7 linked regions of the Homo sapiens genome follow. The protein of the gene in region 6 purifies or fractionates together with the protein of the main gene of each other region. This does not show direct contact. Each region holds a gene or a part of one and is shown on either strand. Other genes may lie near its edges.

Region 1 (4,402 bases), on a different chromosome or scaffold from region 6:
GTAGAAGGCCTCGGCCGGGCGTGGTGTCTCATGCCTGTAATCCCAGCACTTTGGGAGGCTGAAGTGGGCAGATCACGAGGTCAGGAGATCGAGACCATCCTGGCTAACACGGTGAAACCCTCTCTCTACTAAAAATACAAAAAATTAGCCGGGTGTGGTGGCGGGCACCTGTAGTCTCAGCTACTCGGGAGGCTGAGGCAGGAGAATGGCGTGAACAAGCGAGGCAGAGCTTGCAGTGAGCTGAGATCGTGCCACTGCACTCCAGCCTGGGCGACAGTGCAAGACTCTGTCTAAAAAAAAAAAAGTAGAAGGCCTCTCTACTGAGTGACAGCTGGGCCAGTATGTCCCTCCCTAGTCCTGGCCCTGCACATATTCAGGGGTGTGCCTAGAGCCAACTGGGCTGTGCTGGGCACATGCTGTAGTGCTTGTTTGTTTTTAAACTGAGCAGCATGTGGGCATGCCAGGAGGGAGGAGAAGCGGGCCAGCATGCTGTTGGCATCCTCCCCCAGTGGTGCTGGCTCTTACCGGCACTATTTCCTGAGTCCTCCCACTCCATGTTTGGGCCTAGCCACACAGAACACCTGGCACAGCGCAGCTCTGGGAAGGCTGTGTGTCCTGGCGAAGACCCACTGCCCTTTTGGACCATGCCCTTGCCGTTTGCATTCATGCCCTGCATTCGTGGTAGTTGACATTCTTTCACAAAAAGCCATTTGCCTCAGCGTCCAGGGTTAGTTGGCTTCTTGTAGGGTGGTGTTGGGTGTACCCCAGGCCCTCGCACCCACAGGTTGATTCTCGAGGTATCTGTCATTGCCGTGTGTTTTCCAGAAGGCCTGCTGCCCATCTTAGATTCTGCCTAAGAGACTTTTGCAGCTCAACAAAGGGGGTGTGGTGGAGGTTTTGACAGATAACTTGCAGTGGGGCCTTTTGTGGGGGTGGAGATGCCTTGGGCGTGGCTGTGTGCTCTTCCCTCTGCGGGATCACCCGCTTTCCTCCCTATGTGCTGGAACCCACTTCCCTTGCCCAGACTCTTGGCTGCCCTATAGACAGCTTGGCTCCATGTCTTGCCAGCACTGATAGCTCTGTGGGGTCTATGGAGCCATCAGCCCTTGGCTATGGCAACTCCGACCCCAGTGGGCATATCCGTGCCCTGCCCTCTAGCAGCTCCCTCTAGCGTCTCTCAGACCTGGCTGCATCTCTCCACCCACGCCAGCCACTGCTGCTGCCACCTGGTCTAGGTACCTGCAGTAGCCTGCTCTCAGGCCTCCCTGCATGGTCCAGGGCCCGCAAAGCTGTTTTCTCACGTGCCACCGAAGTGGTTCCCTAACATACAGCTCCGAGCTCCTCCCTGCCTGCTCCCAGGACCCCAGGGTGAGAGCGCACACACCCAGTGTGGCCCGTGAGGCTTTCTGGTAGCCTGCCACACGTCTGGGCTTTTCCTTCTGTCCTCTCCTGACCCTGTCACTGAAGTGCTGTCTCTCCTCAGGGCCCTCGCTCAGCCTCTGAGCTGTGGGGATGGGAGGCAGCAGTGCACAGTTCACTCTGCAGGGTGGTGAGAAGAGGGCAGTGCCCAAGCCTCACCCTCGGGCTCTTTTTTTTCATAGCCCGAGCTACACTGGAAATCCTCATCCCTGACTTTGTTAAACAGACCTCTGAAGAGAAGCCCAAAGACAGTGAAGAACTCGAGGTGAGTGTTGTGGTCCTGCCCTGCTGGGAGCTGTGTGTGCAGTGCGGCTACCCTGCCCTGTTAGTGTGAGCTGGGGGTGTCCGTGGGCTGTGCTCATGCCTTCCATGCCCTGTAGGTTAGTCTCATCCAGCCTCCAGGTTCTTCTGTTTGTATTTCATAAAGAGGAAACTTGCCTGTCTTTGTATAGGCAGGGAAAAAATGTCCTTTTTGTTAGAGATTTTTGTCCTCTTTTGCAGCATTGAGTGTGCACCGTAAATGTCGGGTACACATAGGTTTGTGATGGGAATGAATCTTTGAGGCAGTCTACAAGATTTAGATTGTTCTTTTTTTTGAGACAAAGTCTTGCTCTGTCACCCAGGCAGTGACAGAGTTTGATCTTGACCCACTGCAACTTTCACCTCCCGGATTCAAGTGATTCTCCCACCTCAGCTTCCTGAGTAGCTGGGATTACAGGTGTGTGCCACCATTTCTGGCTAATTTTTGTATTTTTAGTAGAGATGGGGTTTCACCATGTTGGCCAGGCTGGTCTCGAACTCCTGACCTCGGGTGATCCACTCGCTTCCGCCTCCTAAAGTGCTGGGATTACAGGCATTAGCCACTGCGCCCGGCCCTAGATTGTTCTTTATATACTTGACCCTTGAGTAACGTGGAAGTTAGGGGCACCAGCCTCTCACGTGGTCGAAAATTCACGCATCACTTTCAGTCCTCCCAAACCTTAACTACTTACTGGTAACCTACTCTTGACCAGAAGCCGTACCAGTAACAAACAATTGATTAATACATATTTTGTTATGTACATATTACTACATCTGTCCCCAACCTAGTTTTGGCACCAGAGATCAGTTTCAGGGAAGACAATTTTTCCACAGACGGTGTTGGGGGGCGGGGATGGTTTCAGGATGACTCAAGCACATCACATTTATTGTGCACTTTTTATTTCTATTATCACTACACTGTAATATGTAATGTAATCACTATACAACTCACCATAATATAAAACCAGTGGGAGCCCTGAGCTTGTTTTCTTGCAACTAGATGGTTCCCTCTGATGACGATGGGAGACAGTGACAGATCATCAGGCATTAGATTTGCATAAGGAGTACACAACCTAGATCCCTTGAATGCACTGTTCACAATAGGGTTCACACTCCTATGAGAATCTAATGCTACTGCTGATCTGACAGGAGACAGAGCTCAGGTGTAAAATGAGTGATGGGGAGCAGCTGTAAATACAGATTAAGCTTCACTTGCTCACTTACTCCCCCTGCCCCCACCACTCATGTCCTGCTATGCAGCCCGGTTCCTAACAGGCCATGGATTGGTACCAGTCCATGGCCTGGGGGTTGGGGACCCCTGATATATACTGTATTCTTACATTAAAGTAAGTTACAAAAAGAATGTTATTAAGAAAATCATAAGGAAGAGAAAATTTATTTACTGTTCTTGAAATGGAAACATCATCATGAAGGTCTTCATCCTCCACATCTTCATGTCGAATAGCTGAGGAGGAGGGGGAAGAAGAAGAGTTGGCCTTGGTATCTCAGGGGTGGCAGAGGCAGAAGAAAATTTTTGTATAAGTGGGCCCATGGAGTTCAAATCCATGTTGTTCAAGGGTCAGCCATGTGAAGAACCATTTAAAACTAGCTGTAAACCTTTTTGGGTAAATGGTTATTTGTAGCAAGGGCTTGTGGAATTTTGAAGGGTGCATTCTTATTTATATAATAGCTTTATTGAGATAGTTTACATACTATAAATTTGGCCTTTTAAACTATATAAGTGGATTTTTATATATTCAGAGTTGTATAACCATCATAACTACCTAATTTTAGAGTATCTCAACACCCCCAAAAGAAACTCCATACCCATTAGCATTCCCTCTTAGTTCTCTCCAACCACCAAAAGCCACTAATCTGCTTTCTGTCTCTATATATCTGCCAACTCTGGACATTTCATATTAGCGGAATCATACAATATGTGGTCTTTTGTGACTGGCTTCCTTCACTTAGTGTGCTATGTCAGCTGTAGGTTTTTATCAGAATAAGGAAATTTCCTTTTGTTCCTGGTTTGCTGAGAGTTTTTGTAGGAATGATGTTAGATTTTGTCAAATGTTTTTCTGCTTCTATTCAGATGATCATGTTTTTTTTTGTCTTTTATTTTAGTAATATAGTGTATTATATTGGTTTTTGAATGGTGAGCCAACCTTGCATTCCTGGGATATATCCCACTTGGTCATGACATATAATGATTTTTTTAATATGTTGCTGGATTCATTTTGCTGGTATTTTGTTAAGGATTTTTGCATTTGTAGTTATAAGCAATATTGATCTGTAGTTTTCTTGTGATATCTTTGTCCAGTGTAACAGCAGGTACAGGTATCAGGATAATACTGGCCTCATAAAATGGTTGGAACATGTTCCATTTTCTTCTGTTGTGTGGAATAGTTTGTGAAGGATTGGTGTTCATTTTTTAAATGTTTTGTAGACTGCGTTCAGTGAAACCTTCTGGTCCCAGGCTTTTCTTTGTCCAGAGCTACTTAATTGCTAATTCAATCTTACATGTTATAGGTCTATTGAGATTATCTATTTCTTCTTGAGCCAGTGTTGATAGTTTGTGTCTTTTTTGGAATTTTTTTCCCATTTGATGTAGATTATCTAATTGATTAGCATATATTTGTTCCTAGTATCCCCATATGACCCTTTTTTATTTCTATATGGTTGT
Region 2 (4,402 bases), on a different chromosome or scaffold from region 6:
TCTCTTTATATGAAACAGATACTCAAAAAATATAAGCAGGTAATAATTTTTTAAAAATCATATAAAAGTTAATGTGAAGAGACTCAGAAAATAAATCATTTGAGCAGATTCTTTAAGTCTTCAAAACAAAAGGCAGGTGTAATTTATTTTTTTAACTTTTTGTAGAGATGGGATCTTGCTTGCTATGTTGCCCAGGCTGGGCTCAAATTCCTGGCTTCAAGCAATCCTCCCGCTTTGGCCTCTGAAAGTGCTGGAATTACAGGCATTATCCATCATGCCTGGCCGGGAGGTGCGATTTTATTTCAAGAAAGTATTTAGCATTTAAAGTGGAGATATACTGACTAGTCAGTAGTGCTAGCATTTATTTTCTTTTCACATTGACACTTGGAAAATAAGAAATGAGTTCAATTGAACCCATTTAATATGAAAGTCTTTGTTTAGTCACAAATTTATTTTTACAACAAAGCACTTTTGAGATAATTTAAAATACACATGCTTTGATTGAAGAGTGATTGCAAATGGGTCCAGTTTTCTTCCACCTGGGATGACAAATTTGTTATTTCTTCTAGGAGTACTGGCTCTGAAGGAAGCATTTTAAGGTGTAACTGCAAAGAAAAATATGATGATTGAACATTTAAGAAAATTAAAATTTTACCTAATCTGGATTCAATTTTTCTACCAAGGAACCACAAAAGACACTAGGTGAATATTTGTTTTCTTAAGCGCTGGTTTATTACTATCTCCCATTTTCCCCTCCTCTATCAAACTTTTTTTATTATAAGGTCCTTTATGATACTGTGACTTCCTTGGTAGAATTAAAGTGGTCATCACTCCTCTCCACCTAAGGACAGTCCTGATACTTTTAAATAATCAGATCAAGTGAACTCATTTTAGGTATAAATGGGATAAAGAATCAAATCTATTATCACCAAAAATCGGCATCATCTACCTCCTTCAACACATTATACCACTAAAGTAGACCCTCAAAACATGAGTTCACCACTATATTAATCATAAAAGTAACAGTCTTATTGTCAAATGATCAAAACTCCTTTAATAATGATAGAAGTGAACATTTTGATTTCAGTAGTAGAAAAAAAAACAAACAAACCCAACTTTCTATTCATAATCACAAAAAACTTCCAAAATGTAACTAACCACTAAAAAAAGAAAAGTTAATGGTTCAGCACATTGGATCAAGCAGATAGCATAAAAATGTCAGGGGGTAAAGTCAAAATTATTGTGCAGTTGAGTAAAAAAACAAAACAAGACTCCCAAGCTGCACTGTCTAGCTGTCCAATGTGGTAGTCACTAGCCACATGCGGTTATTTAAATTTAAATTAATTAAAATTCTATAAAATTAAAAATCCAGTTTCTTGATCACACTATTTACATTTCAAGAACTCAATAGCTACATGTGGCAAGTGGCTATGATACTGGAAAGGATGGATATACAGCATACCCATCTTTGCAGAAAGTTCTGTTAGATAGCACTGCCCCAGAAGAAGACAAGCTGGGCAGTACTGTCTTACATTAGACTTACCTTTAGAAACAATGCAAGGTATGCCTGGGCTAACTCAAAATCACGCTTTCTGTCCAGCATCATCCCAATCATTTTCAAGAAGCTCTGCATAACTTCTATGGACCCACCACAATCAGGAGACAAGCTTCGCAGCTCTGTTTCAATTCCTGATGGGCCTGATTCTTTCAGAAGGTTGAGAGCAGTGTCATCTGCATTAAATTTTAATCCAGTTATGACTTGATTATAATCATTTAACTTAGAAAATTACAGTTTTCCTTTTATACCCCAAATAGGATATATTTAAATGGTACAGGAAATTCTTCCTGTGGGTTAATTTTTTCATATTATGTAGTAGAATGAAACCCAAAATAATTGAAAATCAGTACAAACGATGACACCAATATAAGAGAAAGTACTCAAAACACATTTTTTTTCTGTAATTTAAACCTTTTTCCTGTTAATAAAGAAAATCTAATGCCTTGCAACAGGCACGTTAGAATTTTAAAATGCTCATATATCTTCTCTCAGAGTAAATCCTAATTAAGAAGCCTATAACGATACATACAAAAGTATTAATAGTGGTTAGCATTGGGAATCTGATGAGGTAAAATAATTTTTCTTTTCTATTGTTATAAAGTTATAAAAGTACATAATCATTAGGAACTATATTACTAACAGTACAGAATATATAAAATCAGAGGGGGAAGACCCCATCCCTTATTCTTACCCAGCCCAAACCTACTTCTTTTCCCTAGAAGAATTGTTTCATATGCACCCTAGGAAAACACACTCAGTACACTTACAGCTATTTTTATGAGTCATTTGAGAACTGCAATGACTATGCTTTAGCTTTCTGAAAAAGAGTATCACCAATGACAAAAGTCTAATCACTTTTAGATCCTTCAGTATATAGTAAACAATAGTGTTTTTATTTCTTTGTCTCCCCATAAACATAACAAGTCATTTACAAGGGCTCATCAGTATCATTCTCTGACTTTTGCTAATGTGGACTCAAGTAATCTCGGTATGAAAACAAAAGCATTTGAATCAAAACAAGAGGACAAGTTAAAATTATTAGGAGAGTGACTACAGTTTTTTAAATGATTACAGTTCTTATGGCTAATCACTATTAGCTACAGACTGTAGCCTTCGAAATTTAAATATATGAACACAACAGACAGATTAAAACATTTCCTTTTTAATAAAATAATTTAGGAATATATGAAATCACCTAAGCAGTCCGCTGAATTACAAATTATAAATAAAAACAAAAGACTTGCAAATTACTTGCTACAAAAACGACAAACAAAACTTTTACATTTAATTCACAACAAGAAGGATCTCCTTATTATAAATATAGTCAATAACTGTGTCCATCTCCAATAGCAAAAAGTAAGTTAGATATATGAAAAATCTTCAACAGATTTTTATAATATCAATACCATTTGAGTTTAGTGGGCTTATTTAATATAAATGCTAAAATTACGTCAAATTAAAACCAAAATTTCAATCTTTTTGATTTTTACTATCTTAACTACTGAGAACGCTGATATTTCCTTCAATTTCTCCTCATATACAGTAAAATAAGCTAAATATATTAGTTAAAATATCTTATAATTCAACTTACACTTATTATTTACCAGTCCTTCTTCAAGTTTCAAGCAGAAATCTGATTTTTGAGCCAAAACTCCAAGATTTACCACTTTAGACTTAAACAAAAACAAATACACATTATTCAAATAATTCAAGTATCACCCAAAAATGTATAGTTTGTAATTAAAAGCTATCATTAATTTACCCTATATCTGTAAAACTAGGTCTTGGTAAAGAAGTGCAGAAAACACATACAAACATACACCGATATACTTAGAATCTTCTAATTTGTTTTTTACCTGCTGGGGATCATTATTTTGTTCAGGTGCAGCATATCTGGGTACAAGGCCAGGAATTGTTGGAATGAAAAATGGTGCTGATTTGGGTACTTTGGGTGGTTCCTTTGGTTTATTCTTTTTCTGATTAAGAGAAAATGAGAAAGAAAAATAGGAATTATCTTGCCAACAGTTTCTCATATTTAATTTCAAATCAATTTTAAAACAAATACCAAAAAGTAAAAGAGGAATGAAACTCTTTCACATAAGAATGTTAAAATATGATCTCTTCTGACCAATACCACAGCTATCCTTAACTTGGGCTTCCCAATGCAGATCTCTAGCACCCTTGCCGATAAGGCAGAAAAAAAGTGACAGGGCACAGGGGAAGTTCTAAGACAAACACAGCTCATTTTCCTGAAATATGAATATATTTACATGAAGATATAACAATTAAGTAATTTTAAACTTCCTTTTGTATTGAGTACAAACTCTTTCACAAAACAGGATGGAAAGCAAAATTTACATAAATGCTTAATACAAAAGAGTTTCTTAAATTACTTTTCTCCAAAGGAACTTTGGAGCCAGAAGCAGACTGACATTATAAGTAATTTGATAATTTCCTTTCAAAGTACAGCTCTAATTTTTCTATTTTGCTGGAATTTTTTCTTTAGTACCTTGTGCTTTTAAAATTCAAGAAAACATGATTGCTGGTTTATAAGTATTTCAAATGCTAGTAAAATTATATTAGCAAAAACTCTACTGAAATTTCCATTGAAAGAATTTTGTTTTGGTAAGTACACTGCTACATATCAGTATCTCAGGAACATTTTTTTTTTTGAGATGGAATTTCACTCCATTGCCTAGGCTGGAGTGAAGTGGTGCGATCTCAGCTCACTGCAACCTCCGCCTCCCGGGTTCAAGCAATTCTCCTGCCTCAGCCTCCTGAGCAGCCGGGATTACAGGCACGTACAACATGCCTGGCTCATTTTTGTATTTATAGTAGAGATGG
Region 3 (4,402 bases), on a different chromosome or scaffold from region 6:
CCTTCACATCTGGAAGCTGCCCAGGCCCAGAAGAGGGACCTAGCCTGAACCCAGGCTCTGTCCTTTCCCAGTGGGATTCTCAAGTCCTGGCTGGGCCCCGCCCACCTGCTTGGCCAGTGAGAACTGGATAGTGTGGCCAATGGCAGACAGACAACAGCTGTCATCAGTGACCAAGAAGAGTCCTTGTAGTGTGGTCAATAGAAGACCTGTGGCAGCTTCAGTCACCATGTATACCTGGCATGCTGGCAGTCAGGGCAACCCCCTTCAGTGTGCCTTCCTCACTGTGCCTGAGAGAGTGAGCCTGCCCCAGCTCGCCCAGGGTGAGGCTTGGCCACTGCATCTTTCTACCACCCACATCCCCTAATACTGTGTTCTCAGTAGACATCTGCTTAGTGGAGAGGCCTGTGAACACTGCACCCATCTTCATTGTTTTAAAAGACATTTCACTACGTGTTCAAGTTTAAAATCTAAAGTGTTTTAGAAACAAATTTTTCATCAGTTTCCTAACAGGATTTTGTTATGCTTTTAACTTAATTATTTATGGGTCTAAAACTGTTCAATTCCGTAATGAGTGTCTGTTATGTAACTAAAAGGGAAACACTTCAAACTTTTGTTTTCACTTAACTTTTCGGAAACACTCCTAAGTCAGAAACTGAAGAAGAATTGTACTGTCTACCCACAGCAGTCAGTTAACCTTTGCTAATTTCTCCTACAACTTATCCTAACAATAAAAATTGGTACTGCTATTAGATAAACAGATGCTAGGGCCAGGGGAATGGACAGGGCTGGGCTTCCCGCAAACAAGGTGGCACCACGCAAGGCCTGCAGTTCTTCCAAGGTGGCTAACAGCACCTGTCATGCAATTCCCTGCACTCTAAGACCTCTTCAGAAAGGCCTTGCCTGTCCTGTGAGATTACTTAGTGCTACTCAGGGGGAGCAAGGAAGGTGCCCCAGCCAGAACTCTCTCCATCACCTCCCTAAGGCGCTATTGAAGATAAGTGGATTTAGAGGTTAACAGGTTCTTATTTGAGAAAGAAAAAGCTCTTTGCAGGAATGATCAGTTTAAATACACTGCTTATCTTTTCATCCTTTCTTGAGGATTAAGATCAAGAAAGGGAGTGAGTTCATGGTGGGGGATGGGACAGGTCAGGGAAAGCAGGCTAGAGGGGCCAGGAACCTGGGAGCAGGGGCAGCATGAACCAAGACGAGTTTAGATCCCAGCAGAACCCGACTGTAAGCTTCCTGAGGGGCGGGACCACGTCTTCCTCATCTTTGCATTCCCAAGTATGGGGCCCCGCACAAAGCAGATACTCAGTGTCTGCTGACGTGAAGAAAAGTTTCCGCCAGGCCAACAGTCTCTGACTATCTCATACATCATTTCTTCTCTCTCTTGCTGAAACCACTGTGAAGGGCACACCAGTTTCTACCATAAATTTGGGAGTCTTTTTTCTGCATCCTCCATTTGAATGTCAATTCCTATGGCAGGGACTTATTTGTCCCGTTTTATACTAAACATATTCAAGGAATATGCATCTTGTTATGACATCTCTCCACTCATTTATAACTTTTAGGCTGGATCATGCTATATTCATCTAATACATCATCGAATGTATTAATTCAACTTCTGCTGTGGCTGGGAATGAAAAGAATGAAGAGACAATGGAGGAAGCTGAAAGCGGATCAGAAGGTCGCTGTCATGGACAGGCAGGCACAGCAGCGGCCTCAGTGCTGCCCTCCCTTTCCTGCCAGGCATCCTCTCAGCTCACTCTCTTACCTCTAAGTATTTCCTTAAATTGCACCTTGGCGAGGAAGCCTGCTCTCACACCGCCCATAACACAGCAAACTCCTGCCATCACTCCCAAACCCAATGCCCCTCGTCCAGCGATCCTCCTTTCCAACAGCATTTATATTGTAACACACTATATAACTTAACATGTTTATTGTCAGCTCCCCAAGGTGGGATGTGACTCCACCAGCACCAAGAGCTTTGTTACTTATTCCCAGCACCAAGAATAGTACCTGGCCGAGCAGGTACATAAGAAATACTTGATGAATGAATGAAACAGTGAAAAGAAGACATAAACTTAATCCAAAAAGCCTAACCAGAAATGTTTTTAGCAACAGATGTAAAATTGAGAAATTCTTTAGAAGGTGGAAGCTGGGTGAAGGAAACAAAGGCTTCACAGCTGTAAATTCTCACAGAATACTCCTAGTTTGGGTAAAGAGAAAGGTGCTTGGTTTTAGTTTTACTCTGGGAATCTTGCCCCTTTGCCACAATCAGCTCTCATTTGGGTCACACCAGGAAAAGCAAGACTTCCATGTACCTTGTTCTCTGGGAAGGAAGAAATGAAACATCAATGAAGAGATACTGAGTGCAACAGAGACAAACAAGAGACACAGAACTGCTGGTCTAAGTCTTCCTCAGTTCACAGAGGTGCAGAGTGGTGGAAAATGCTTTGCCTGTCCCCCACACTGGGATCTGGGGCAGCTGTCTCACCTCTCAGAGCCTATGTGTCTTTAGAAGTGGGGAAAATAACCTACCGCATGAGGTCTACATGGGCATCCAGTAGGATAGTGGTGACAGAAGCCTCTACATAGATGTGCCGGGTGGCACATCACCAGCATGACCCCTGACCCTCACTCCTTCTTTACTCATCAGAGCCTTCCTGTCCCTCCAGACCTGCTGACCTCCACAGCACAGTGAGCTCCTCTCCTGAGTGGACTGAAATTCCCTGAAGACAGCAAGTAAGCCTTTTGCTTATTTTCTGTGCCTCAAGGTGCTTGGTACTAAGTTGGCAACCAAAGAAACGACAAGAACATTTTCACCACAAATGTATGTCCAGATACCAAGGCACACTGTGCTTCATCTGTGCTACTCTTAACCGTATGGCTTATACTCCAGAGACCGTGAGATCCCTGTTCACAGCTGCCCTGCACACATCAGCAGATTCAAATCTCTTTACCCTTGCTTCTGCTGTTCCTTCTGCCTGGACTGCCCTGCCTCCGTCCTTCTACTCTGGACACTCAGATATGCTCAAGAAACCTTCCTCAACCTTCACAGGCTGGAAGGGTTCTCCTGCAGGTTCCCACAGCATTCTGTGCTCCCCTCCACCATTCTACCTACAGCACCTAAAACTGCATTGGTCAAATGCCCTAAAACATAAAGAACTGACTAGGTAGATTACGGTATATCCATACGATGGAATAGTGTGCAGAAAATAAAAAAAGGAAGGGTGATTACAATAAAGTACCATTTCAGCAAAAAGAAAAAATAGGAAGAAATACATGTGAACATTTACTTGTTAATACGCGCAAAAAATATCCTTGGAGAATACATCAGAACTCACACTAGTGGTTGCCGCTGGGGAGGAAACCTTTCACTGTGTATGTACACATACACTTGTAACTTCTGAATTTGAACCATATGAATAAATTACCTATTTCAGTTAAAATAAGTAACATGGTACAAGTTGGTCATCTTCACTACGCTGAATTCTGTATGGGCAAGGACAAAGTCTTATTCATCCAGGACACCTACTTTAGCAACAGGCATGTAAACAGGTACTCACTAAATGTTTGCTGAATTGAACTAAACTTTTGAAAATAATCATATTATTTTCATGCTCTTAGACACCAGTTCTATCGGAAATCCTACATTTTCATCATCTAAGTCTGAAACAGATGGGGTTCTACTGATCTTTAAACAGGCCTCCCAGATTGCTTCCTGAAAAGACTGTACTGACTCAGGAAAAGGGCCGGAAGCACATCCTCTTAAAAGCACCTTTCAGACTGACCAAGCAATGTGACAGAACAGAAAGATACAGGTTCTAGTCCCAGGCTGGCCCCAAACTGTCCCTTCAGGTCACTCAGCCTCCTGCACATCTCAGATGAATCTATGAAGTAAGCTTCAACCTGGCTTCTAAAGTATAACAATGCTGCCGAGAGAGCAGTGCTGACAACATCTAAACTATCAGACAATCCCAAAATGTCCTCTGGGAATTTTTTTGGCAGCTAAGACCTTTCAAGGAAACCCGGAATTCTGATAACACATAAATACATCAACATACTAGAAAGCGAAGGAATATGGTAGTGGTATGATGTAGAATCTTGCTTCTTTCCTCTTTTTCTTTCTTCCCAATCTGGAACCAGGTGAAATACAAAGTACATAAAGGAATATTTAAGGATGAAAAATGGGGCAATAAACAAACAGATAAAGGCTAACAATATTATTGGGTTTTTTCTTAGCAGTGTTTCAATGGGATTAAATTCATCCTCTACGGGTCTCTAGGTAGCTGATTAGAGCAGTGCCTCTCAAGTCGCCTGGGGGCTTCCTAGAATCACAGGCAAGCAGTCCCACACCTGGGCACTCTGATGCGACAAATAAGTAAGGCATGGTCCACAG
Region 4 (4,402 bases), on a different chromosome or scaffold from region 6:
CACTACTGCTATGTCTGCTACCAGCTCTATTATCGATTAGCTATTCGCTGCAGGCTAGTTTCTCTGCTAAGAGTTTTGTATACTTCATCTCTGTGAAATGGGTCAGTAACGTCATTTTCCACGAGAACACCAAGGCTAACAGGGTTAAGGTCACATAGCTAGTAAGTGCCAGAGGCTGGTACCAGTCCATCTGGTACGAAAGCTGCTGTCAAAAAGCAAGTGTCGTCATCCCATAATATAAAGGAACACACTATGAGCAGTTATGTGACTTGCTCCAAATTACTCATTTTTTTTTTTTTTTTTTTTTGAGATGGAGTCTTGCTCTGTCACCCAGGCTGGAGTGCAGTGGTACTATCTCGGCTCACTGCAAGCTCCACCTCCCGGGTTCACGCCATTCTCCTGCCTCAGCCTCCCGAGTAGCTGGGACTACAGGCGCCCGCCACCACACCCACCTAATTTTTTGTATTTTTAGTAGAGACAGGGTTTCACCGTGTTAGCCAGGATGGTCTCGATCTCCTGACCTTGTGATCCGCCTGCCTCGGCCTCCCAAAGTGCTGGGATTACAGGTGTGAGCCACTGCGCCCGGCCCAAATTACCTATTTCTAAAGGGCAGAAACTAAATCCAAATCCATATCTGCTTATTTCCACATGGTTGTCTCCCAATCTGACTAGCACCTAGGAATAAGGACTTGATCAGTTTGTCTTTACTGAATGCTTCTGTCTGCCAAGCATGATATTAGGTACTTAATATATTTAATTATTACCCTTAATATATTTTATCATTAATTAAAACACAATTACATATGCGCCCATAAAAAGACACATGAAAGGATGATCACCAAAATGTTAATGGTAGTTATCTCAGGGTCATGATTTTAATTTTCTTCTTCATAATTTTTAAAAAATAAAGTAAAACTTCAGTAAACAAAATATGTAATAAACTAACATCCTCCCAGATTACTTAGCTCCAGTCCATTTCCAATATGCTAAAAAGAAGAACCAGATTTCTTAACTTTATGAATTTTGAGTAGAAAAGATCCAGATATCCCAGAAAAAGTCTCCATTTACCTTTGTTCCTATGACTACCTGTCTATCACCAGGTACAAAGAATGAGCAAAGTGCATATTCACAGGTCATTGTGCGAATACACTGCAGTGTAGACCTATGAGAAAGAAAAAATAAAGAACTCATGTTAAGAGAATCTGCATCCCCATTTTAGAGGTCAGTGTGTAGGTTTCAATGCACTTAGACAGATCAACATAAAAGAAGATAAAAGTCTTAAAAACCCTTGACTCACACACAATTATAGTCATGGGAGAAAATACTAAAAAGCACCAAACTTTGTTTACTTTATAAGGCCTCCAAATCCTAAGGAACAGAAATCACACAAAAGCAGAGTAGAAAAGTGTCTGCTGGGCTCCACGGAGCCCAATCTGCCATTACCAAGAAGTGAGTGAGTCTGAAGGATTACAAGTCAAATTAGTACATCATTACATATCCCTACATTTTTTATAGGACCACAAACATTAATTAATTAATCAAATATATATCAAATGTCCACTTAACAAACATTTACTGAATGCCCACTACATTACCAGGTACTGTTCTAGGTGCTGGAGATACAACAGTGGATGAAACAGCAGAGGTTCCTAATCTCATAAAGGTTAACATTCTTTGGGAATAATAAATATCTAAATATTTGGTATATCAGGTGTTAGGTGCTATAGAGCAACATAATGCTGGGAGAAGAGGATGAAGAGTGCAAGGAGTAGGGTAAGAATGATAGGACTGTCATCTGATAAGACACAGAAAAAGCTTATGGATAAATGGGGAAGATGGATTCAGGCAGAAAGAACAGGGAGCACAACAGCCATAAGAAAGGCACATTCTTGTTCTGTTGAAGGAATAGCAAGAAGACCAGTGTGGCTCTAGTGGAGCAGAAAAGGAGAGTAGTAAGAGATAAGGTGTGTAAGGTAGGTAGAGTGAGATGGAACTACTGGAAGTGATCTAACTTCCACTATAAAAAGATTACACTGGCTACTGTGTTGAGAACAGACTATAGAGGGGCAAGCAAGAAAGCAGGGACACCAGTCAGGGGGCTTTACAATAACCCAGATGAGAGATGACAGTGGTTTGAATGGGGTAGTGGCAGTGCAGGTGGTAAGATGAGGCTGGATTTGGGATCACTTTTGAAGGTAGAGCTGATAGGATTTGCTAATAGATTGGATGAATATGGGATACGAAAATCAACAATGGGCTGGGTGCGGTGGCTCATGCCTGTAATCCCAGCACTTTGGGAGACCGAGATGGGTGGATCACTTGAGGTCAGGAGTTTGAGGCCAACATGGTAAAACTCTGTCTCTACTAAAAATACAAAAATTAGCCAGGCGTGGTGGCACACGCCTGTAATCCCAGCTACTCGGGAGGCTGACACAGGAAAACCACTTGAACCCAGGAGGTGGAGGTTGCAGTGAGGCGAGATCACATCAATGCACTCCAGCCTGGGCGACAGAGCGAGCCTCTGTCTCAAAATAAATAAATAAATAAAAGAAAATCAAGAATGGCTACAAGGTTTAGACTACAACTGGTAGCAAGTAATCATTTATTAAGATAGGGAAGTCTGAAGGAATAGCAGGTGGGAAGATTTTTGGAGACATGAACAACGTAAGTTTGGTTTGGGACACATAAAAGTTTGAAATGCTTAATTAGACATCCAAGTGGTGACACAAAGTATTTGTATATATGAATTTGATGTTTAGGGAGGAGGTTAAAGCTGGATATAAATTTATGTGTCATCATACAGAGAAAGCTACATGACAGATTACATAAAGTGAGTTTAGATACACAAAAGGTCCAAAGACTCTGCCCTAAAGCACTCTAACACTTAGACGTCATAAAGATAAGAAAGATGGAGCGAGGACTGAGAATAAACAGACAGCAAGGGAAGGGGAAATAATGAAAGTCAAAGAGTGTGTCAAAGACAGAAAGTCATCAATTCAAGGACAAAGCATAAAATAAAGCTTTTAGCTCAATGGATTTGGAAACAAGATCACTGATGACAATGACTGTTTTGGTGAAACAGTGGGGACAAAAGCTTGATGGGAGACAGATGAAGACAGAATGGAGAAAACAAATCAGAGAATGGGGTAGTAACTGGAGAGCAATGCAGGGGTGAGAGAGGGTTATTATTTCCTTTAAGGTGGGAGATATGATCATTAGCTTCAAGGTTTTGGAGGTATTTGATTTGACAACAGAAGCAAGGTATAAAACAGTCATCTGGGAAAGTAAAAGAAGGGTGAGAAATTAGGGTACAATTACTGGGCAGCAATAACAGCCTGCTTTTTATTAAGTTTAAAGAGTAGGTAGTATGGTTGTGTGTTTTTCTCTAGCCAAGTACAGTTACAAGCTCTAAACATGGAATAAGCTTGCCTTTTTTTTTTTTTGCACCACATTTTAAAAGGCAACTTTTTCTTCTCTAAGCTCCACAGGCTAATGGCCCAAATGCACTAAAGATAATTGTATTTAGGGCCTTAAGGAGTTAATAACTAACCCTTAAGAGTACCAAAAAAAATTAAAAGAAATACTACTAACTACAGCTATATAAAACATCATTTCACGAACCTGTTCCATATTTTAATGGAATCAGCTGCAGCTGAAAGAACAGCAATATTGTCTGAGCTGAATGACAAAGTCCGCACATCACTGCGATGACCCCCAATAGTGATTCTGCTTGTCCTGACAGGCTGAGGAGTAGGCAAGGATGGATTCAGTGAATACAATTCCACCAGGTTGTTCTGCAGCAGGAAGACAGCCTTTAACTCTCCGTGAGGTGAATGAATCAAGTCAAAGGACCTGTACAAGAAAATAATCATAAATGTTCTAGCTACCATCTTAGCTCACAAGGTTTACTTTTTCCAGGAAAAGGCTTTACAATGTCCTCTATCTATATAAAGTTTGAATAACTATAAACAATTTTTCAAGTAAGAGTGCCCTGAGGCTGGGTGCAGTGGCTCACGCCTGTAATCCCAGCATGTTGGGAGGCCGAGGCGGGTGGATCACTTGAGGTCAGGAGTTTGAGACCAGCCTGGCCAACATGGCGAAACACCATCTCCATTAAAAATACAAAAATTAGCTGAGTGTGGTGGCACAAGTCTGTAATCCCAGTTACTGCGGAGGGTGAGGCAGGAGAATCGCTTGAACCTGAGAGATGGAGGTTGCACTGAGCCGAGATCATGCCACTGCACTCCAGCCTGGGCAACAGAGCAAGACTCCATCTCAAAAAAAATTAAAAGAGTGCTCCGAGTATTGAGTAGTAGCTGAGTAGGCTTTTAAGTAAAAAAAAAAAAAAAAAAAAAAAACTAGGCTCAGATCCTGGTTCTGATACATACTTTGGTTCTGTGTA
Region 5 (4,402 bases), on a different chromosome or scaffold from region 6:
ATTCCATGGAGGTGCTTTCCTACCTCCACACTTTTGTGTATGTATTCCCCTCAGCTTAGACTCTGTTTCCTTTATGTCACTACCATTTTTATTAATAAATCAGTTTGACCCCATTGTTTTTACCCTAAGGATATTGTGACTTGCTTAGGACATGACTTCTCCTCTACATTATTTCTGATGTAATTGTAAATACCGTTTTCAACAGATCGATAAAGAATTGGCTAGTGGTGAATACTTTTTGAAGGCAAATCAGAAGAAGCGGCAGAAAATGGAAGCAATAAAGGTACGGCACTTTATGTCTGGCTCACATGAATAGCAAAGTTCATAGATACTTGAATTATTTAACTATAAATACATTTAACTGATATATTTTTTATTTATTAATGTAGGCTAAACAAGCAGAAGCCATCAGTAAGAGACAAGAGGAAAGAAACAAAGCATTTATTCCACCTAAGGAAAAACCAATTGTGAAACCTAAGGAAGGTAATGCTTTCTATGATGTAAAAGTCTTTATTAATTAGGAAAAGTAAACCCATAATAAATTTGTCTGAATCTTTTTAAGAAACAGTTGTATCTTTTCATCAGTTCTCTTAGCATTTCATTAATTACTAATCCTAAGGACAAGGGATGGCTGAGATAATTTATAATTTAGAGGCAGCTAATGCCTATTTCAGTGCAAACTGGATTGACAGTCCTCTCCTGACCTCTGGTCTGTGCTTGGAAAAGACTCTTTGTTGTGAAAGATACAAACCCAGGGCAGCCAGTGCATCTTCTGTAGAAATGCAAGAAGATCCCTGAGCTCTGCTGTCATGCCTCTCAAAGAGGAATTATCAGAAGTTGTACTTTTTCTTCTCTTTATGTGATCTTGGCTTAGAGTTTGGCTTCTATATCGGTAACATGGATTTCTCATCACCTTAGACTAAAGGATGCTGACAGGTCTTATTCAGGAGCTATTAGTGCGAAAGTGATTGTGGTTTTTAAATGGCAGAAATCACTTTCGCACTAACCTAGTATTTAAAAGACACTAAGAGAAAACATTGTCATGCCATTTCTTCTGATGCATCCTCTTCTGCATTTTTTTCCCCTGTGGTAACACTTATCCTCTTCCTAAAGTAACCCTCCAAAGTGAACAGTGACACACTGAAGGGAGAGGGCTCACCAGCAATATTGTACATAGACTGGGTCAGAAACAGATATAATACATTATTATTTTAATATATTGCTTGTTAATAGCTTTAAAAATACTACATTCTATGGTAGATTATTGGTTATATAAAAGGTAGAAATGTCATAAGTATTATAATTTCCAGTCTGTAAAACCTGTCAGTTGAGTGCTTTGAAGGTACTCAATATACTCAATAGCTAGTTACCCTAATTTAGTTTCTCCACACGGTGGAGGCTTTAACACTCTGTGCTTCTCAGGTTGCTGGGTAGTTTGATGTTTTATCTTATGATTCTTTTATGCTGTGATCCTGTACTTTGAATGGTAAGAAAAAGTTGCATTCTTTTTCACTGCTTCCTTTCTCTATTTTGTTCACACTTTTGGCATTGATTAGATAGTTGGCTTCTATTAGGGGGACTTCCACACACTCTCAAATTATTGTCTTTATTACCAAAATGTTGTTAAATATACCAAAATCTTGTTAAAATACTATTAATTAGTCATTCATTGAATTAATATTCAATGAATTAATCTAACATTAAATGAATTAATTCATTGAATATTCAATTAATATTGAATTAATATTTGGAAAACTTTAAATTTTCGTTTTGATATTAGAGGAAGTAGATTTTGACCTCTAGCTTAGGGTTAGCTGATTAAACTTATTGAGAAGGGATACATGTAATTTTAAATTATTTTAATGTGCAAGATGGAAAATAATGACTCAGAAGTTCCAAAATATGGAAAAGAATGTAGGTAAAATAATTTAGTCTGAAGTAGGATTTAAGGAAATAGTCTTAATATAGTTGAATCCAGTAATTGGTTCAATTATGCCATTTATGCCATTTTTATGTATACTTGTACTAATATATAAAGTATTTTATGATTTGTTTTATCTTAATCTGAAGAAATTTCTAACTGCTTTAGGCAAGTGTTTTTATATTTTATACTGTGATCACCTTTCAATTATTCAATTATAAGAATACTCTGAAGTTAACTGCCTTAAACATATATTCTTTGTTAAACATATATTCTTTGTTTTACTTGGTAAAATCTAAAGTATTACATGTGTTGTGCTTTTAATTTGTCTAGCTTCTACTGAAACTAAAATTGATGTGGCCAGCATCAAGGAAAAGGTTAAGAAAGCAAAGAATAAGAAACTGGGAGCTCTTACAGCTGAAGAAATTGCACTTAAGATGGAGGCAGATGAAAAGAAAAAGAAGAAAAAAAAGTAACATACCCAAAACTCCTTGACTAGAACTATCTCCTTTTGTAAAGGATTTTGAGATATCAGGCATTAGTTGCCTTATTTGTGAGAAATTTTCTGAGGGCTTTTTTTTTTTTTGGTGGTGGTGGTTGTTCATAGAAGAGTGTTCTTTATAAATTATATTATTATTGTATTTTTTGAAAAATTTATACGAGAAAGTGGTATATAAGTCTTTGTATACATTACGACCATTGTGATTATCCATTAAATCCAGTGTCTGATGCTATTGGTTAGTAATGATGTCCCAGCATTTGATGTTCCCTCTCTAATGATAACAAGTAAATATTTAGGTTTATCCCTTTTGAAAGTTTGGTTTTACTTTTAACAGTCCATGAACAGAAAATTAAGGCCTCTAAAATCAGATCCCCTAGTTACTCCTCTGTTCTGAATCTGGGGAAGTAGTAAACCAAAAAGACAGGGAAAACCAGATATTTAGAGTCGAAGCAGCATGCAAAAAATAATAATGTTTTTAACTAATGAAGGCTACTGGAGTTACTAAGAATCACCTAAAAATGTGCTACTGTACCTTGCTCATTTTGCAGATTTAGAAGCTGAAACATGGGTTAGGTTACTTACTAAAAGTCCACCTGTGGCAACCTGCAAATAATGCTTATTTATACTAAAGATGAGTTTATCTGATAGAGTTAGGAAATTTCTTCTTTTGAGTAAGAGTATTGCTATAACATATATTTTTTTCTGAAATGTTTTAAAATAGAAGTACACCTAATTGTTATTGGTTAAAAAAAAAGCCATATGTGAATGAGGTTGGTTTTTGGGTTTTTTCTTTCCTGAATTGTATTAGTCCAAAAGAACTAAATTAGGGTACTTGTGCTGTACCAAAATGGTAATTATAACAGACAGTATTAGAATTACTGAATTAACAATGAGAAAGAGAGAAGTGTATCTGTTACGTGGATATATGGGCCAGCCTGGATATACAACAGAGTAGTAACCTGTGAAACAAACATAGAATATCCTCTTAGACATTGTTCCTCATAATGCACTGACAGAATTCACATAGCTCTTAATGAAACAATTTAAGATTGATGTACGTACGTTTGACTTGGTCTCGCTGTCGGTTAACTGTAAAGTTAGGGGGAAGAAAGAAAAAAAATTAAAAGGGTAGACACAGTTGAGAGTTTTATTTTAAAAAGCTAAGTCTTATAATTATGACCATTAACTTGCTTTGGCTTTATTGCAGTGACTTTCCAAGTTTAATTATTCAAAACTTTTTGAACTGACTGAATTAACTTGGTATTTTTAAGTTGACTTTTTACATAAACTTTATAAACCTTTTATAAAAAGGAAACTATACCATTACTATAAATGGAAAATCATTTTACACATCATACCTAGCAGGTAATAAAATTTAAAAAATAAAAATTAAATATTAGAATGTGAGAAATTTATTAAAATATAGTTCTAAAAATAAGTTTCTTCCTGAGAAGAATGATACTGTTTATGATGAATCCATAGTGAAAAGACAGTGACCTCTCTTTCATCCAGTCTAGTATATCACTAAATCATCATTACGATGTTTGGCTATCAAGTCATTAATTACTGTCCTCCTTTCACTGAGCTTTATTCAAATTTTGACAATCAGAGCACTGGGAAGAAATAAATTCCACAACTGCCTTTAGCCTTCTGGATACTTTCTTTTATAAAATAGAAACCTTTTCCACACCAGTTCTGCAGCAGTCGCTATTAGATGCTCGTGGTAGAACCCATCAATCATCTGGTCCTCTGGGTACTGGTGAGCATCCCTGGTCTTCATACCTGTGAGTGGGCTTTGTGGTGAATTACTGTAAATATGCTACCCTCACTTTTCTTGGCAGTTATGTCGATGAAATCAAGAGTGTGATGTTCTAGTTATTTTTTTTTATATATATTTTTAAATGTTCAATATTCAACTATTGAAACAAATGTACATCTGTGAACTAGCTAAAATCATCTTATGTACCACTAATATGCCC
Region 6 (4,402 bases):
GAATTCATCTTTCCACTGCACCGCAAAGCCGTTTCACTGGCTGAACATTTCCATACACACTAGAACTTGCACCATGTCATTTAGAGTAAAACGGCTCGTCTGCTTGCAGTGTATTTGGAAAATCACGTTTGTAATGAAAATGCTCATGGTCAGTGAAGCGCCCCTGCAGGTGTGCCTGACACAGGGACTCTCCTTGAGCCAATCTCCACCCTCGGGCATCACTCTGCCCATGGAGTTCCTGTGGCAAGTGGGGCTTCCTTTGTTTTTCTGGGGTTTTTTGAGACAGGGTCTCATTCTGTTGTCCAGGCTGGAGCGCAGTGGCACAATGATAGCTCAATGCAGCCTTGTGTTTAAGTGATCCTCCTGCCTCAACCTCCAAACAGCTGGGACAACAGACGTGCACCACCACACCTGGCTAATTTTTGCACTTTTTTTGGAGATGGGGTTTTGGAGATGGGGGTCTTTCTATGTTGCCCAGGCTGCTTCCTTTTTTTGAGATGGAGTCCCGCTCTGTCACCCAGGCTGGAGTGCAGTGGCACAATCTCAGCTCACTGCAACCTCCACCTCCCGGGTTCAAGCGATTCTCCTACCTCGGCCTCTCGAATAGCTGGGATTACAGGCGCACGCCACCATGCCCAGCTAACTTTTGTATTTTTAGTAGAGACAGGGTCTCACCATATTGGCAAGCTGGTCTCAAACTCCTGACCTCAAATGGTCCACCCACCTCAGCCTCCCAAAGTGCCCGGCCCCCCTCTTCTTTTTTTTGTAGACAAGGTCTCACTCTGTCACCTTGCCTGGAATTCACCAGCGTGATCATGGCTCACTGCATACAGCCTCAACCTCCCGGGTTCAAGTGATCCTCCCCCAACAGCTTACTGAATATTCTCTGTGCTGATGGGATCTATGTTGCCCAGGCTACTTTTTAAATTTGTTTTGAGACAGGGTCTTGCTCTGTTGCCCAGGCTGGTGTGGAGTGGTATGATCATGACTCACTCCAGCCTTAATCTCCCTGGCTCAAGTGATCCTCCCACCTCAGCCTCCTGAGTAGCTGGGAATACAGGCACGTGCCATTAAACCTGGCTAGCTTTTGCATTTTTAGTAGAGACAGGGTTTTGCCCAGGTTGGTCTCGAACTCCTGGGATCCACTGATCTTCCCACATCGGCTTCCCAAAGTGTTGGAATTACAGACATGAGTCACAGTCCCAGGCCCAGGCTGCTTCCTAACTTCCTAGTCTGGGCTACAGTGACCACCAACTTTGCAATTATATCATGTATTTTACTGCCACTTCAATTCTAATGCTTCTAATTTCAGCTTCTATTTTCTTTAATGTGAAGAGAAATACAGATGTACGTAAATGACCAAAACCCCTGCAGACTGTGAAAGGCCCTGACTGCCTGTGTGTGGGGTTCAACTCTTCATTCTAAAGGGAGAGGAAGACGATCCATCAAAAACAGTCATCCAGGCCGGGCACGGTGGCTCATGCCTGTATCCCAGGACTCTGGGAGGTCAAGCTGAGCGAATCACTTGAGGTCAGGAGTTCCAGACCAGCCTGGCCAACATGGTGAAACCCCATCTCTACTAAAACTACAAAAATTAGCCGGGAGTGCTGGCGGGCACCTGTAATTACAGCTACTCAGGAGGCAGAGGCAGGAGAATCGCTTGAACCCAAGAGGCGGAGGCTGCATAGTGGCAGAGGCTGCAGTGAGCTGAGATGGCGCCACTGCACTCCAGCCTCAGTGACAGAGCGAGACTCTGTCTCAAAAAAAAAAAAAAAAAAAAAAAAAGAAACAGTCATCAAGAGGGTCCACCCCACTTCAAATGATCACTGTGTTCTAATGAGGAAACTGCTCATGAATCCACTTAGTGAAACTGAATTCTTAACAGTTCTAGCAGAAAATTTCAAATACACACAAAGGTAACTTAGAGGGTAGTTCCTAATGGTTAACCTGTAACCACATAACCTTTATCATCCTCTCTCTGTATGTATATGTACGTGTGTATATATGTATGACTATGTACGTATGCATATACACATATTTCTATTTCTGATCCATTTGAGTAAATTGCAGACATGATGTTCTTTTACCCCAAAATATGTCCATGTGTATTTCCAAAGAACAAAGACACTCTCTTACATAACCACAGCAGAATTACCCAAATCAGGAAATTAACATTGGTACAAACTACTCACATTTTCCCCGTTAAATGTGAGAACAGGCCGGGCACAGTGGCTCACGTCTGTAATCCCAGCACTTTGGGAGGCTGAGGCGGGTGGATCAGGAGGTCAGCAGATAGAGACCATCCTGGCTAATAAAGTGAAACCCCGTCTCCACTAAAAATAAAAAAATTAGCCATGCATGGTGGCACACGCCTGTAGTCCCAGCTACTCGGGAGGCTGAGGCAGGAGAATCGCTTGAACCTGGGAGGTGGAGGTTGCAGCGAGCCAAGGTTGCGCCACTGCACTCCAGCCTGGGCGACAGAATGAGACTCCGTCTCAAAGAAAAAAAAAAAAGGATATTTTTTCCTACACGCTTACGGTTAAGAGTTTGCTTGGTGCCTGTAATCCTGGCACTCTGAGAGGCCAAGACAGGAGAATTGCTTGGGCTGAGGAGCTTAAGACCAGCCAGGGCAACATAGTGAGACCCTGTCTCTACACAAAATTTAAAAATTAGCTGGGTGTGGTAGTGCACTGATAGTCCCGAATACTAGGGATGCTGGGGCAGGAGGGTGGCTTGAATCCAGGAGCTCAAGCCTGCCCTGAACCATGATTGTGCCACTGTACTCCAGTCTGGGTAACAGAGTGAGACCCTGTCTCCAAAAAAAAAAGTTTGCTTGGCATTATAAAGGAAATAAAAGGAGTGCACACAGAAAGTTTGCTTGGCACACCTGTCACGACACCTGTAAGTGGTGCTGGTCTCATGAGTAGAACAGATCTGTGAATGACAATTCTAATTTGTTGGGTCAGAATTTTCTCATTCATGTCTCCTCTTTCTCTATAGCCAATGTCAGCTGATGACCAGTTTAAGAAATAACATTGGCCGGGCGCGGTGGCTCATGCCTGTAATCCCAGCACTTTGGGAGGCCGAGGCGGGCAGATCCTGAGGTCAGGAGATCGAAAGCATCCTGGCTAACACGGTGAAACCCCGTCTCTACTAAAAATACAAAAAAAATTAGCCGGGCGTGGTTCGGGCACCTATAATCCCAGCTACTAGGGAGGCTGAGGCAGGAGAATGGCGGGAACCCGGGAGGCAGAGCTTGCAGTGAGCCGAGATTGGAGATCGCACCACTGCACCCCAGCCTGGATGACAGAGCGAGACTCTGTCTCGAAAAAAAAAAAAAAAAAAAAAGAAAAGAAAAGAAATAACATCAACTAGAATAGTGCAAACTGCCTGCAAATTCCTTCCACTGTGGCCAACTTCCCAAGTGTGAGGAGGTCTGTGAGGAGCACCAAGACCAGCCACTTTGGCCTCCATCATTCTCACAAATACCTTTCCAGTCAGTGGGGAGGAAATAATCCCATTGCCGATGTTCTTCTTGGAGTGATCTGGAATCACACTCGGGCGGCCGGGAAGGGAGGAGGAGCCTGTCCTGGAGATGAGGCCCTCGGGACTTTTCTTAGAGCCTGGAATTCTGTCAAAGGAAGAAAACAAGTAGGGAATTCTCTTACTAGGCATTACAGAAACGGAGAGAATTAGAATAAGTTAAGGCGGGGCAAAGGCAGAAACACGGCCTGGGGAAACCCTGCCAGTCCTAACCACTTCTCTGGAATCTCCCTTTGCCTTTCAACCACAGTGAGGCTGAGAGATCAGCCCCAAGTATCTGCTGAATATAAGCAGAGCAAGGGCAAATTAGAGTCAGAATTCCTCCAAGATCAGAGTTCAATGCACCAGAAAGCAAGAACCTCAAACACCTCAGCCACACTCTGCAGAGACGTACAAAGCAGCAAAAATGCCTCAGCTGCCACGGTCTCCAGCCTCCAGGTCAGTGACAGCCAGCTCCAGGAGAAGGCCCCTCCAGAGAAGCTCTGCAGCAGCACCCCCACAAACACGTCCTTCCCAGCATATCCCTACAGGGGCAGCTTCCCCACACGGGAAGGGGCATTGGCTGGCTACCATCCAGGGAGCAGTACCTCTAATTTGGGGCAATACTATAAATGGTGACTTTCCTGTTTACATTCAAAACAGCATCAATGTGAGGGCAGATGGGATCCTGTCCTGACCTTCCCAAGGCTCTGGCTTTACTAAAAAGTGTCCTTCCCTGTGGACGGTCTCTATGACACATGACAAATCCCTCCAGTGGAATTCCCAATTACCTTCAAACAAAAAAAGGTTAGGGAGGCCCACCGGTATAAGAAAAGAGCAGAGGGAGTGAGCTCATCTGGGGAGGGCGTGAGTTTATTAC
Region 7 (3,500 bases), on a different chromosome or scaffold from region 6:
TGTGCCACTGTGCCTGGCTTAAACAAATGTTTAAGAAACTTGACATTTATGATGTAACTGGAATTGGAACACTGGTAATTTGTTGATATTGCTATCTTTTTAAGGGTACAATAATGGTATTGTGGCTGTGTTGTTAGTAAACAGCCCTTATCTGTTACAAGTCATTGTGAAATATTCATAGATAAAATGATGTCTGGAAGTATGTGGAGGGGGTAAGAGCTGAAACAAAGGTGGCCATGGGTGGTGATTATTGCATCTGATTGCATAGGGTTTCATTATACTTTTCTGTTATTTTTTGTGTATGCTTGACTTTTCCCATAATAACATAATGTTTTGAAAAGAGTAAGACAGGGCCTTGGCTGCTGGGATGATTAGTTTGGGTGATGGTGGTGGAAAATGGAATCGTAATGGGAGGGACTCCTCCTAACACAGCAGCAATAAAACCACTGTCAATTACTAACTGCCTAGGAGCCCAGCACTGTGCTAAGCCCCATCACAGCACCCCTATGGGACAGGTACTATTGCTATCCTCCCTTACAGAGGAGGAAACGGAGGTTCAGGGAGGTTTAGAAACCTGCCAAAGGTCAGCTAGGAAGCAATTCAGAAAAGCTGGGACAGTCCAGGCAGGCCGACCTGGAACCTGCCCTCTTAACCACCTGACTGCCTTTAGCCCATTTCTCCTCCCAAGACCCTGAAGCGGTTGGCCTTAGAATCCACTGCTGGGATCTGAGCGTGAATTTTTGCTCCCAGACCAGTGCTCTTTCTACTCTGCCACCATGCCAATTAAAAAAAAGAAGCATATTATTTTTCTTACATAAAAATTTCATTACTATAGAAATGTGTAAAGTATGAACACTGCAATGTGTCAGTGAGAGGCAGGACACCTATTAAAAGAGCTCCAGATGAAGGCTACTAGAGGGCGTCCTTCCATGGAGAGTGGAAGGAGACCTGTTTCTCTGTAATGCTGACTTTTCCCAGGGCTGTCCTATCTCCTTTTCAGCACAGCAAGTGGCCTCTGATGCCAGGAGGAAGCCCTGAGTGAGTCCAGCTGCCTGGGGCCCCTGGTGCTACCAGCCAGGGCTGAACTACTAGCATCTACCTCAAATTGCCTCCCTCACAGGCAAGCCCTGTACCCTAGAGACAAAGCCCCTTCTTTGCTCACTTTACCCTTTCCGTGGAGAGTTTAAGGCAGTTCTGCTTGGTAAAAATGGATGGGATGGGGACTGTTAGCATGCTGTTATTTCCAGCGCCCATAACAGCTTACCCTCCCAAGCTCCTCCACCCTGGCTATTAACAGCTCCCTCTGCCACTCGTGGGACAGGTGGCAAACCACAGGCAAAAATAACTCAATGCTCATAGCTTAATGGACAATCTAATTTTTTTCTAGATGTCCATTTCCCTTTTATCAATAGCACTCTCAATATTTAAGCTTACGATATATGTAAACATGTACAACAATATTTATAGTAGCACTATTCACTATAGCTCAAACTGGAAACTACCCCAAATGTCATCAGTGGTAGAATAGATCAATAAACTGTCATATATTTATAGAGTGTAATACTACAGAGCAAGGAAAATGAATGAATACAAGCATACTCAACGACATGGATAGATTTCACAATACTAAGTTGAGCAAAAGGAGTCGGACCCAGAAGAGGACAAGATTTCATTTTTACAAAATTCAAGACAGATGAAACCCATCTCTGCTTTGATAAGAAAGGACAGTGGTTACCCTTGGAGGAAATACTGACTGGGAGTGGGGCTGAGGGAGACTTCTGGGGTGCTGGTAAGGGTCTGCTTCAGGATCTTGGTGCTGGTTGCAAAGTGGGGTTCACTTTGAGAAAAATTCATCAAGCTCTATGCTAATGATTTGCTTTTACACAATACCCCAATAAAAATTTCAAAAATATATGCAGAATTAAAACAAAGTTAGCTTCTCTCTAGTGAAACTGTTCAACTACACATAAAGACAGAGCTTGACATGGGACCCCAGCGGAGGGACAGCCAGTTGACAATGATCAGCTTCACAAGAACTTGCCTGAACAGTGGCCTATTCTATGGCACTTCTACTGAAGTCTCAGGACCTTACCTATATCTTCTTTGAGGTCAATTTCGGCTGTGGTTGGGTGGACAATGCCCTCCACTCTCATGGAGCCAATATGGCTGATGTCACTCTGGGTTAAGGACAGCTGCATTAGGAAGAAAAGGTGGTGAATGTGGAAAAGATAAAATTCTGTTGAAAAATCTCATATTTTACTTGCATTCATTAATTCTCTTTAATTATTCATACCCAATGTCAACATAGGGGCTGCATAGAGAGTGACAACCTCCAGTTTCCCAGGTGTTTGGCTTGCAATAAGCTCTTTGAGCTCAGTGGATTTGCTTTCCACTCTGGGGCTGGCAGCATGCAACAAATCCATTTCTTCTTCCCTGGAACAGGAACAGGGCCTCCCCTCTCTTTTTTTTTTTTTTTTTGAGACGGAGTCTCACTCTGTCTCCCAGGCTGGAGTGCAGTGGCGTGATCTCGGCTCACTGCAAGCTCTGCCTCCCAGGTTCACGCCATTCTCCTGCCTCAGCCTCCTGAGTAGCTGGGACTACAGGCGCCCGCCACCATGCCCAGCTAATTTTTTGTATTTTTAGTAGAGACGGAGTTTCATCGTGTTAGCCAGGATGATCTTGATCTCCCGACCTCTTGATCCACCCGCCTCTGCCTCCCAAAGTGCTGGGATTACAGGCGTGAGCCACCGCGCCTGGCCCCCTCTCCTTTCTTTCTTTCCCTTACAGCTCATGCCTTTGGTTCCCAACCCTGGTGGCCTTAGTTTTCAGTGATGCATCTTCTGAGAAGCTCCTGCAAGGAAGCCCAGGGCTTGCTCTCTCTTCTCCCCTCAGCATCCTGCATTCTCCCTAGAAGAACACAAAATCTGTGGGGCAGGGCTCTGAAGCCAATAACCTTGCTGGAGAGAAGTAATGGGCTCTGGGATTCTGACCTGGGGGTGTCTGGCTCCCTTGCCCTTTGGAGACCACAGTCTTGGGGCTACCATTGGGAATTGCTATCCTATGTGTTCACAGTAGAGTGGAATGGAGGGCATTCTCTATTGTTGGCCCATGTGAGCAAGACCTTTATGTTGCCTTAGCTAAGTGAGAGAAAGCTAATCGTCATGTAACAGTGAACAGGCCAGAGAGGGGACATAAATTCCACCTCTTTGTTTCCCTGCTTTCATCAGTGACGAATTAGCAACCAGCCACACCGATGCTCTTCTTAGAACATACTCTTCCCAATTCTTTGAATGGAGGCTTACTGTGTTGTCAAGATGGAAACATTCAGCTACCAGAGATATGATTAACTGACTCTTTCCTTGGGTGTCTTATTTCAGCCCCAGTTGACTTGGTAGATAAATTGTCTGCTCAGTAAACTTTACACTTGTAGGAATGAATTATTTGCATGTCTGGTTGGGCTGCTGTTGTGTTGCTGAAGACTGTTCAAATGCATAGCCCTG

The links.
Region 1: the proteins of USP36 (region 6) and DGCR8 purify together in Homo sapiens (affinity purification with western blotting; 3 studies listed by BioGRID, with this or other methods). This does not show direct contact.
Region 2: the proteins of USP36 (region 6) and WDR36 purify together in Homo sapiens (affinity purification with mass spectrometry; 2 studies listed by BioGRID and IntAct, with this or other methods). This does not show direct contact.
Region 3: the proteins of USP36 (region 6) and KIAA0232 purify together in Homo sapiens (affinity purification with mass spectrometry; 3 studies listed by BioGRID and IntAct, with this or other methods). This does not show direct contact.
Region 4: the proteins of USP36 (region 6) and WDR3 purify together in Homo sapiens (affinity purification with mass spectrometry; 2 studies listed by BioGRID and IntAct, with this or other methods). This does not show direct contact.
Region 5: the proteins of USP36 (region 6) and KRR1 purify together in Homo sapiens (affinity purification with mass spectrometry; 2 studies listed by BioGRID and IntAct, with this or other methods). This does not show direct contact.
Region 7: the proteins of USP36 (region 6) and MACROH2A2 purify together in Homo sapiens (affinity purification with mass spectrometry; 2 studies listed by BioGRID and IntAct, with this or other methods). This does not show direct contact.

The regions. Positions count from the first base shown.
Region 1 is NC_000022.11:20,093,112-20,097,513, forward strand, and holds part of DGCR8 (microprocessor complex subunit DGCR8), read left to right. Parts: intron 1-1,601; coding exon 1,602-1,684; intron 1,685-4,402.
Region 2 is NC_000005.10:111,122,937-111,127,338, reverse strand, and holds part of WDR36 (WD repeat-containing protein 36), read right to left. Parts: intron 3,535-4,402; coding exon 3,415-3,534; intron 3,232-3,414; coding exon 3,150-3,231; intron 1,732-3,149; coding exon 1,544-1,731; intron 606-1,543; coding exon 456-605; 3' UTR 1-455. UniProt on the Homo sapiens protein: Part of the small subunit (SSU) processome, first precursor of the small eukaryotic ribosomal subunit.
Region 3 is NC_000004.12:6,865,929-6,870,330, reverse strand, and holds part of KIAA0232 (uncharacterized protein KIAA0232), read right to left. Parts: intron 4,140-4,402; coding exon of another isoform or gene 4,068-4,139; intron 1-4,067.
Region 4 is NC_000001.11:117,942,846-117,947,247, reverse strand, and holds part of WDR3 (WD repeat-containing protein 3), read right to left. Parts: intron 3,853-4,402; coding exon 3,622-3,852; intron 1,163-3,621; coding exon 1,069-1,162; intron 1-1,068. UniProt on the Homo sapiens protein: Part of the small subunit (SSU) processome, first precursor of the small eukaryotic ribosomal subunit.
Region 5 is NC_000012.12:75,497,804-75,502,205, reverse strand, and holds part of KRR1 (KRR1 small subunit processome component homolog), read left to right. Parts: exon of another isoform or gene 1-205; coding exon 206-283; exon of another isoform or gene 284-389; coding exon 390-483; exon of another isoform or gene 484-2,254; coding exon 2,255-2,397; 3' UTR 2,398-3,227; coding exon of another isoform or gene 3,228-3,382; 3' UTR 3,383-3,485; coding exon of another isoform or gene 3,486-3,512; 3' UTR 3,513-4,402. Other genes in the region: GLIPR1 (glioma pathogenesis-related protein 1 precursor), read right to left, coding at 3,228-3,382, 3,486-3,512. UniProt on the Homo sapiens protein: Part of the small subunit (SSU) processome, first precursor of the small eukaryotic ribosomal subunit.
Region 6 is NC_000017.11:78,809,371-78,813,772, forward strand, and holds part of USP36 (ubiquitin carboxyl-terminal hydrolase 36), read right to left. Parts: intron 3,632-4,402; coding exon 3,490-3,631; intron 1-3,489. UniProt on the Homo sapiens protein: Deubiquitinase essential for the regulation of nucleolar structure and function. Required for cell and organism viability.
Region 7 is NC_000010.11:70,094,346-70,097,845, reverse strand, and holds part of MACROH2A2 (core histone macro-H2A.2), read right to left. Parts: intron 2,193-3,500; coding exon 2,093-2,192; intron 1-2,092. UniProt on the Homo sapiens protein: Variant histone H2A which replaces conventional H2A in a subset of nucleosomes where it represses transcription. Nucleosomes wrap and compact DNA into chromatin, limiting DNA accessibility to the cellular machineries which require DNA as a template.